Linked DNA regions of Homo sapiens: region 2 is linked to region 1. Evidence: fine-mapped expression QTL. A gene starts in region 1. The other region holds a variant in brackets. All regions are shown on one strand. Distances are between the middles of the regions. Region 1 holds the start of RXYLT1 (ribitol xylosyltransferase 1). Region 2 has its middle 33 kb from the start of RXYLT1.

Region 1 (4,400 bases):
GGAGTCACATGGGTTCAAGCTGTCTTGAATCACTCTCTGAGACTATCACCATGGTGGCACCCACTCATAAGGGCTTTTAGTAGAACAGAGTCCATAGACAACTATCACACTAGTTAAGGCTGGTGGATCATATGGAATACATAAACAAAATTGGTGATGAAATGTTACACCAATGATGAAACTGTGCATAGGGTTTAGAGGGTGTGGGGAAGGGGAAATAGGAGAGGGAAAGATTTACAGAGGAAGTGATGTTTGCACAGAATCTGTTTCTGCTCATCTGCTTCAATTTCACCTCAGAGTTGTTCTGTCTTTAACCTTCATCCTAGTTTCTGTTTGGTTGGTTATTAGTATGTTGTTTGATTGATTGTTTAAAGAAGGCGTTATAATTTGCTTACTATTTCCCAATGCCAATATATTTCTGTAGAGTTTTATTACTTATTTTTGTGAGCATTGTACTCACATGAAAAAGAAAAATGTATCTTCTTAGGACTGATTCTTACAAATTTGAAATAGCTATAGTTTATAACTTACATGGCCAAGCCCTGCTAGAAGTATCTTGCAAAGGGTTTGACACAGAAGCTTGGCCAAGCTGTGAAAAATCTCTCAAAGTAGTTAACACACTTCTTGAGTATTACTGGAAACTTGATAAACTAAGAAGAGAATTTTGACCAGGTATCACAAGAAATTTGTACTGGGGACTTCTAAGAATAAGCGTGTACTATTTCACAGTCAACTAGAAGAAGGCATTAGGACATTAGGGCTATTTTCTCAATATCTTGTTGATTAATAGTTCTTCCCTTTGCAGACAGAGTAGAAAATTTCACCAAGTAAAGATTTTAGCCCTGCTTTAGTTTAATTCATCTCATATTCCTTTATTTCTATTCTTCCTCCCACATCTTTCCTTCTCAGGTCTGGTTCCCTATATGCGGAGCTTCAACCCCCAGAGGATATTTAACCTTGTCTCCCCCTCCACACTGCTGCATTCCCCACCACATCTCTTTCCCTCTCTTTCCATCCACCTGAAGAGATGAGAGCATATACAGAAAGTAGCTCCCAGCTGTAGCTCAACCATTAAACACCAAGAGAAAGGAAAATGAACTCTGCCAGACTTAGATCAATTAGAAGATTCCTTTGTAACCTAAATACATTTTTAAAAGCTTATCATCAAATTATGCAGTCATTTGCAGTTTGAGGTAAAACAACTCCTTCATTTTCATGGCCCTCTCCCCTATTCAAGATGACATCAACTGCATATTAGTTTTACCTTGTATGCATTTCTCAATAGTAAAACCATTAGTCAGTAGCATCTGAATGTACATTGATACAGTGGGTGTTTTGTGGTAATTATAAGGTAATTACTTCCTATCCTTAAATAATTGTCATTTCCACAAACAAACAAAATAGGATAAACAACAATACAGCATACATAAAACAACTGCCATCTCCCTAAGACACCAGAATAGCCTGTTAATCAAGGAAAGCTAAATTTATTAAATCTACTACAGTAAGGGAGGCCACACTTTGACAGAAGCTTGGCAGTCTCAGAAGGAGAAGGTTGGGGGTGATATTTATAGGATTTGGGGAGTCTGAGCAAAAATGGTTTAAAACAGGTCTTTTGAGGCAGGGAACTGTTTGGGGGATTGGGTAAAGTGTTTGACCTAATAGTTTAGGGTCGGTGCTAGAGTGACCAATTTTACTGATTTCCTAGGACTTTCTCAATTTTAGCACTAAAAATCCTCCAACTGGAGAATCCTTACAGTCCTGGGCAAACTGGGACCATTGGTCACCCTAATTAGCAGACATACCGTCGCAAGACTGCTGGGTAATTTGAACAGTAGTACCAGAGCAACTGACAAAACATTGTAGCCCATCTTCCCAAGGCTGGATACAAAGTTTTCTGAAGCATTCACATTTACAGCCTCTATTTGACAAAATACTGCATGCCTATGTGCGTTCAACTCACATAATAATGAAACTTAACTTTAAAAATGTTTTTATTGCAGTAAGGTATATAAAACATGAATTCGACAGTTTAACTATTTCTATGCATACAAGTGAGTGGTATTAATTACATTCACAATGTTAAGCGACCATCATCACTTAATTTTTTTAAAGGACGTTTATATTCACTCATCTATCAACGTAGTAGGCACTGTCCTAGGCGCTAGGGATTCCATGCAGAGCAAAAAACGTCACAGTCCATGCCTTCACATGGCCTTCATGGACCACCGCGGGTGTTCTTTTTCCCCCGAGTCTTTATGTACTTGGGAAAAGTGGCCAGGGTTGAAAGGTGCAATGAGTACACGGCAGAGGTCAGAGAGGTTCCCACTCAGCCCGGCGTCTGGAAGCAGCGTGGGGTAGGGGCCGCTCCAGTACCCCCTCCTCCAGTGTCGAAGGTGGGCAGGCCCTCGGCCGGGTGGATGAGCCGCGACTGGAGGGGGCGGGGCCTGGGCGGGAGGCGGGCGGTGGGCGTGTCCGGGGCGGGGCTGTACCGGGCGCTGGGCGGAGGAGCCTTGGCTGGGGACTGCCTGGAAACGGGCTGGGCCTGCCTCGGACGCCGCCGGTGTCGCGGATTCTCTTTCCGCCCGCTCCATGGCGGTGGATGCCTGACTGGAAGCCCGAGTGGGATGCGGCTGACGCGGAAGCGGCTCTGCTCGTTTCTTATCGCCCTGTACTGCCTATTCTCCCTCTACGCTGCCTACCACGTCTTCTTCGGGCGCCGCCGCCAGGCGCCGGCCGGGTCCCCGCGGGGCCTCAGGAAGGGGGCGGCCCCCGCGCGGGAGAGACGCGGCCGAGGTAGGACTGGGTCGGCGGCTTCCTTCCGGCTCTGCGCTCCTGGCTGGGGCTGCTGGGCGGCTGGGGCCGGGTCCCCGCACCCGGCTCTCAAGTCCGGGATTACCCGCAGGGCCTGAGAAGCGCTTTGCCCCCTACAGCCTCTCGAGCCAGCCCTTGGCTCGGAATTGGAGAATGGTCCTCATTCTTACCCAGATCTCACACGCCGTCCCCGCTCCCGATCCCAGGGGGTGACAGGCGCGCACGCCTTTCAAACACGTGTTAAAATCCAAGACGTCGTCTCAAATGCCAGAGATTTGCGGGAATGCTCCTGGAAGGCCTCAAAATCGCCGCAAGGTTTAAGACATCCGTTTCCATGTTGAAACAAAGCCCTCTCTAATCCTGCAGTGACCATAAGGCAGACTTTACCTCCAAATTCTGGTCCCCTGTCCTGTGTTTTAACTTGTGTTAAGATCAGACTCGGCTTTCTCTTTCCCTTTATTCAGAATTTTGCACGATAGTATCTAAGACTGGTGAACACTACACTCTGAAGTCAGTTTTTTGTGCATAGGTTACCTGTATACAATGGATAAAAATAATTGCAAAAGTTAAGCTTGTAACTTGATACATATTATCCTGTTATTTTTAAAGGTTTTGTGTTGGGGAAGAGAATTTTCCTGTCTCAAGGTAGCATTTTATTTCTAAGACTTTTCAGAGTAAAAAAAGTTCAGTAAAAAAATTGCTGATTTTCTTTTTTGTTTTCATTGTGTATTACCAGTTTAAATTCAGTTGCTGTACCTCTCAGAAATTAAAGTTAGGATGAAATTAGAACTAACACTTAATTTAAATGATTTGAATTTACCTACAACTGCAATAATACCTTACTGGTAAACACTTACTCTTTTTAAAACAGAACAGTCCACTTTGGAAAGTGAAGAATGGAATCCTTGGGAAGGAGATGAAAAAAATGAGCAACAACACAGATTTAAAACTAGCCTTCAAATATTAGATAAATCCACGAAAGGAAAAACAGATCTCAGTGTACAAATCTGGGGCAAAGCTGCCATTGGTAAGTTAATACGTAGAAGGAAGACATGTAAAAAGCATTATAAAATGTATTTTATTGATATGAAATTCATTTTAATATAATTTATTTCATAATTTGTTAATTAAGGCATCATGATATATTTTTTCGCTTTTTGTCAATAATTCCTTTCTCCTTCCAATTAGACAACATCTGTTTGTAAATGTACACACATACATATTCCACTGTTGGTCTTTAGCAGAGCACAGCTTCATTTATTGATACATTGAGTAGGCTGTATAGTGTCATTAGATTGCAATGCATATGTCAACTGAATTTTCATGAATCTGTGTATTTTTTGGACACTTGATACACAAGTATAAGATGTGGCCCCTGCCCTTGATGGCCAAACACATTTGGGAAACACTGAAGAGTACAAAGTTAAACAAGGTTCTTCATTGCAGGCCTTTCTCAAGAGCCTTTAATATGACAATGTTCATTGTATCAGCGAAGGAATATATTATAGTATGTAGTTGATTAAACTTGATTGACCACAGAAGCATTTTTGCTGTGAATATCATGAGAGTGTAGTGTTCTAAGATAT
Region 2 (4,400 bases), 33 kb before region 1:
CAAATGATTAATAAAAAACAAACTTCAATCAGCTATGCTAACTATTAAAATCTTTGTGTTATCTCAATAGTAAACTTTTTGTATGAAAATGCAATCAAAGAACATATAGCCAAAAAAGAAGGAAAAATTATAGAGGTACATTAGGCTCTTAGTTTTCTTAAGATAGCTTGCTACATTCTGTGTTTTTTTTGTGTGTGTAACTTGTTCTTTCATCACTTTAAATATATCTATTTCCACACTAAATTTTGTTTTCTTTCTCTTAAGGAGTTCTACAAAATTGTTTAAACTTTAGGCCTATAAAACTTGAATTGACCCCAATGACATATATTCATTTCTTTAATCCCAACTAGCAAGATGCTTTTATTAATGTCTTCATTTTAAAACTGAGAAAACTATGGGAGGGAGATATTAAGATCACAGAGACGGCCAGTGGTGTAACCTGGATTTAAAGCCAGCAGGTTGGCTTTTGAGCCTGTGTCTTACTCATTCTCCACCCTGCTGCCCTTGAGAATAAATGAAGTCCAGCCCTTTTCCTTAAGGAATGTGCAGTACAATAGTGGACCCTAAAAATTACAGTATATCAAGATATGTGCCAGATTAGTTATACAAGGTACAGAATTAGAAAGGAGAAATTAAATTTCTAGGATAGTAGGGGAGATTTCACAAAGAGATACCTTCTTGGTTACATTAAAGTTTAAATTTGAAATTATATTTAAACTCATGTACCTAAAATCACTGGCTCTGGTCACCAGGCAATGATTTCTAGTATTGAACTACTGTATATATTACCTCATCCCAGATTAAGTTGATTGAACAATAGTTTTCAAAAGCACCACAGAGATTCAAAGAATAAACTAAGGCTTTTGACAATGCTTTAACCCTCCCACCATTCCCACAAACATAACAGGAATGATGATAGAAATGAAAAGACCACAATTCAGAGGTCCATGTGCTTATCCAGGATGATACAAATCTGATGCAAAATTAATATAGGACTAGGTTTTGTTAATCCTAATGTAGTTTTCCATTCAGTGTTCTATATGTCCTAACCAAAACTTGGTTTTGTAGATTAAAATGATGTTTTAACAAGTCTCTCTGGTGGTTTTAGAAGTAGAAACCATGGGCAGGGCATAGTGGCTCATGCCTATAATCCTAGCACTTTGGGAGGCCAAGACTGACTGATCACTTGAGCCCAGGATTTCAAGACCAGCCCAGGAAACATGAAGAAACCCTGTCTCTACAAAAAATAGAAAAATTAGCCGGGCTTTGTGGCACGTGCCTGTAGTTCCACCTATTCAGGAGGCCGAGGTGAGAGGATCACCAGAGCCCAGGAGGTCAAGGCTGCAGTGAGCCGTGATCACACCACTGCACTCCAGCCAGGGTGACAGAGCAAGACTCTGTCTCAAAAAAAAAAAAAAAAAAAAAAAAAAGAGGAGGAAATAGAAACCTTGCTTTATAGGCTAAGGAATTCACCTTAGAATGAATCTCATGCTACAGAAAACAAATCTAGATGTTTTGCTTTAAAAAGGACAGAAAATAAGCTCCATTTTTCTATTAAAAAAAGTGACAAGTGAAGAGAGTTAATTTGATAAGTAACAGTATGATGGGAGAATAAATATAAATAGGATTCATTAGAAAAAAATTAAAATTTAATCAACTTTAATGGGCTCCTGTATAGTCCAAGCAGCTTAAGGCACTAGATTATTTCCTATGAAAAGATCTGAGAATAGGCAGTTCAACAAGTTGGAAATTTAATTTTTGAAATAACATTAAGCAAGGACCAAATATCCATGTTAATCAGTAGCATTTAGTTATAACTGGCTCAGTGATCAGACAATAAATTGCTTTGTAATACTAATTTGTTCGTGAGAAGATGGCATTAAATTTAAAGTAATTGATGGAAACAAACTGCTAAAAGAAAAATTATGAAAGACTCACAAAAAACAAAGGAGAGAGAGTTCTTCTCCAAAAGAACATTATTATGGTTTTCTCTCCTGGGGGTTGCCCTTACCTCATGTATTAGTTTGTTCTCACACTGCTAAAAAAGATATACCCAAAACTGAGTAATTTATAAAGGAAAGACGTTTAATTGACTCACAGTCTCACCTGCCTGGGGAGGCCTCACAATCATGGCAGAAGGCAAAGGAGGAGCAAAAGCACGACTCACGTGGCGGCAGGCAAAAGGGCGTGTGCGGAGGAACTCCTGTTTATAAAACCACCAGATCTCGCGAGACTTATTCACTACCATGAGAACAGTATAGGGGAAACCACCCCCGTGATTCAATTATCTCCACCTGGCCCCAACCTTGACACGTGGGGATTATTACAATTCAAGGTGAGATTCAGGTGTGGACACAGCCAAACCGTATCATCTCAACTCCACCCAGCCAATCTTACTCATTCTTCAAGTTCCAGTTCCAAAGCTAAGACTAATAATCATTCCCTGATGTC[A/G]TTCTTCTTTTCTGTGCTCCTTCAGTACTGTTGTCTTTTGTTCTGTTTAATTTTGTTTGTATTTATCGCCCTCGCAATACTATGTGCCTTTAGTATATAACCGTGTGATACAGAGCGGAAAGGAATCCTCAATATCCTTTGGTTTAATGTTTTAGTAGCAGGGTCTAGCTGAGTCCAGGCTGTAAAACAGGATTAGGGTAGGATTAAGGTAGGACTATTTGGCTGGTGGTGCTAGGAACAGAGTGAATTTTTAAAAATTGAACAATTTCAAAATTTTTATTTCTCAGTGATTAGCTTTAAATTTACATTCCTATGCACATGGAGTTATGTCAGGAAACTCTTGTTTGTACCACCTCTTTCTGGCAGCCTGCAGGAAATGAAGTAGCATCATGGGCAGCATGTTAATCATTGATGATGAATGTGGCCTGGGATGAATTTGATTACAGGATTGCTGTGTACCATGTGACATGAGGGGCTCATAATAGGCTTAAAGATGATAAAAATATTTTTTGTTCTCTTAAATATCATAGAAATAACTGGAAACATTAATAGAAATACAGTTGGCTCTCCATATCCATAGGTTCCCCATCAGTAGATTCAACCAACCATGGATCAAAAATATTTAGGGGGAAAAAACTTCACAAAGTTCCAAAAGGCAAAATTTGAATTTGCCACACACTGAGGACTATGTTGAATCCACATGAATGAGGAGATGTGTACGCATTATATAAGTAATCTAGAGATTATTTAAAGTGTACAGGAGGATGTGTGTGGGTTATCTGCAAATACTATACCACTTTATATAAGAGGCTTGAGCATCTGTGGATTTTGTTATCTGCAGGTGGTGCTAGAGCCAGTCTCTCATGGATATAGAGGGACAGCTATAATTTCTTTATAAATTGGTATTGACCACATAAAGAACCTCATTGACTACATATAGAACCTCATTACTTTTTTTTTTTTTTTTTAATATGGAGTCTCACTCTGTCGCCCAGGCTGGAGCACAGTGGCGCGATCTCGGCTCACTGCAACCTCCGCCTCCCAGGTTCATGCCATTCTCCTGCCTAAGCCTCCCAAGCAGCTGGGACAACAGGCACCCGCCACCACATCTGGCTAATTTTTTGTATTGTTAGTAGAGACGGGGTCTCAATCTCCTGACCTCATGATCTACCCGCCTCGGCCTCCCAAAGTGCTGGGATTACAGGCATGAGCCACCACGTCTGGCCTACTCATTTTTTTTTTTAAGAAATCAATTCTTTTTGAATCATTCTATGTTTCCATGGGTTGCTAGGCAAGGATTTGGTTTTTGCTTTGGGTGGGAGGGTCAGGGAGGAAGATTAAAGTTCCGGGGTGGCGTAATAGCCAGACGGAGGAGGGAAATGAGATGGCAATCAACTGCCAATAGCTGAAAGAGCTGTTTTTGAGACTTTGTTGGGGGATAGATGCTGAAAGAACTAGTTTTGTGAATGACTTCATGAGTATCTGAGAGTAAGGAGAGCAAGTTTGGTGTTGGGTTAACAAATGTCGAGCAGAACTGGTGGAGATCATGCCTGATCCTCACTGTACCATGGGCTCAGTGCAGTTTGGGATACTCTGAGGACTCAAGATCAACAATGAATGGCCTTGATGCCATCACTCTCTGGAAGGGCATTGGCAAAAGAAGTGGTACTAAGGTACCTTGGCAATAAGAGATTGTGGGAAACCAGATCAGACTTGAAGAGAACATTTGAGATGCCTCCCCACTCCACTACCCAGGGATATCGGAAGTAATAGGCTGCAGGGACTGCAGGGTGAGAAACCTGGGTGGAGCAAGGGCTGATAAGAGCCATCAGAATTATGTGGCCTTGTTTGTGCTCTCAGGCCAGCAAGAGCATTTGAGTTATGTTCTCATTTAACAGGTAAGCAAACAGTGGTCAAGACCCCAAATGACCTGCTCAGGATTTCACAGA

What was found. PIP is the estimated chance that this variant, and not a neighbour inherited with it, causes the effect.
Region 2: its variant is fine-mapped to the expression of RXYLT1 in cerebellum (GTEx, PIP 0.98).

Annotation. Positions count from the first base shown.
Region 1 is chr12:63,777,334-63,781,733 of GRCh38, forward strand. It overlaps RXYLT1 (ribitol xylosyltransferase 1), which reads left to right and starts at 2,576. Exons shown (of 6, transcript NM_014254.3): 1 at 2,576-2,796; 2 at 3,686-3,841. The coding sequence starts at 2,628. RefSeq lists silencers at 2,395-2,624, 2,641-2,916, 2,645-2,944.
Region 2 is chr12:63,744,474-63,748,873 of GRCh38, forward strand. No RefSeq gene overlaps it. Among named protein-coding and RNA genes, the nearest start is that of RXYLT1, 33 kb to the right of the region's middle. The variant A/G (reference allele first, on the strand shown) is at 2,452.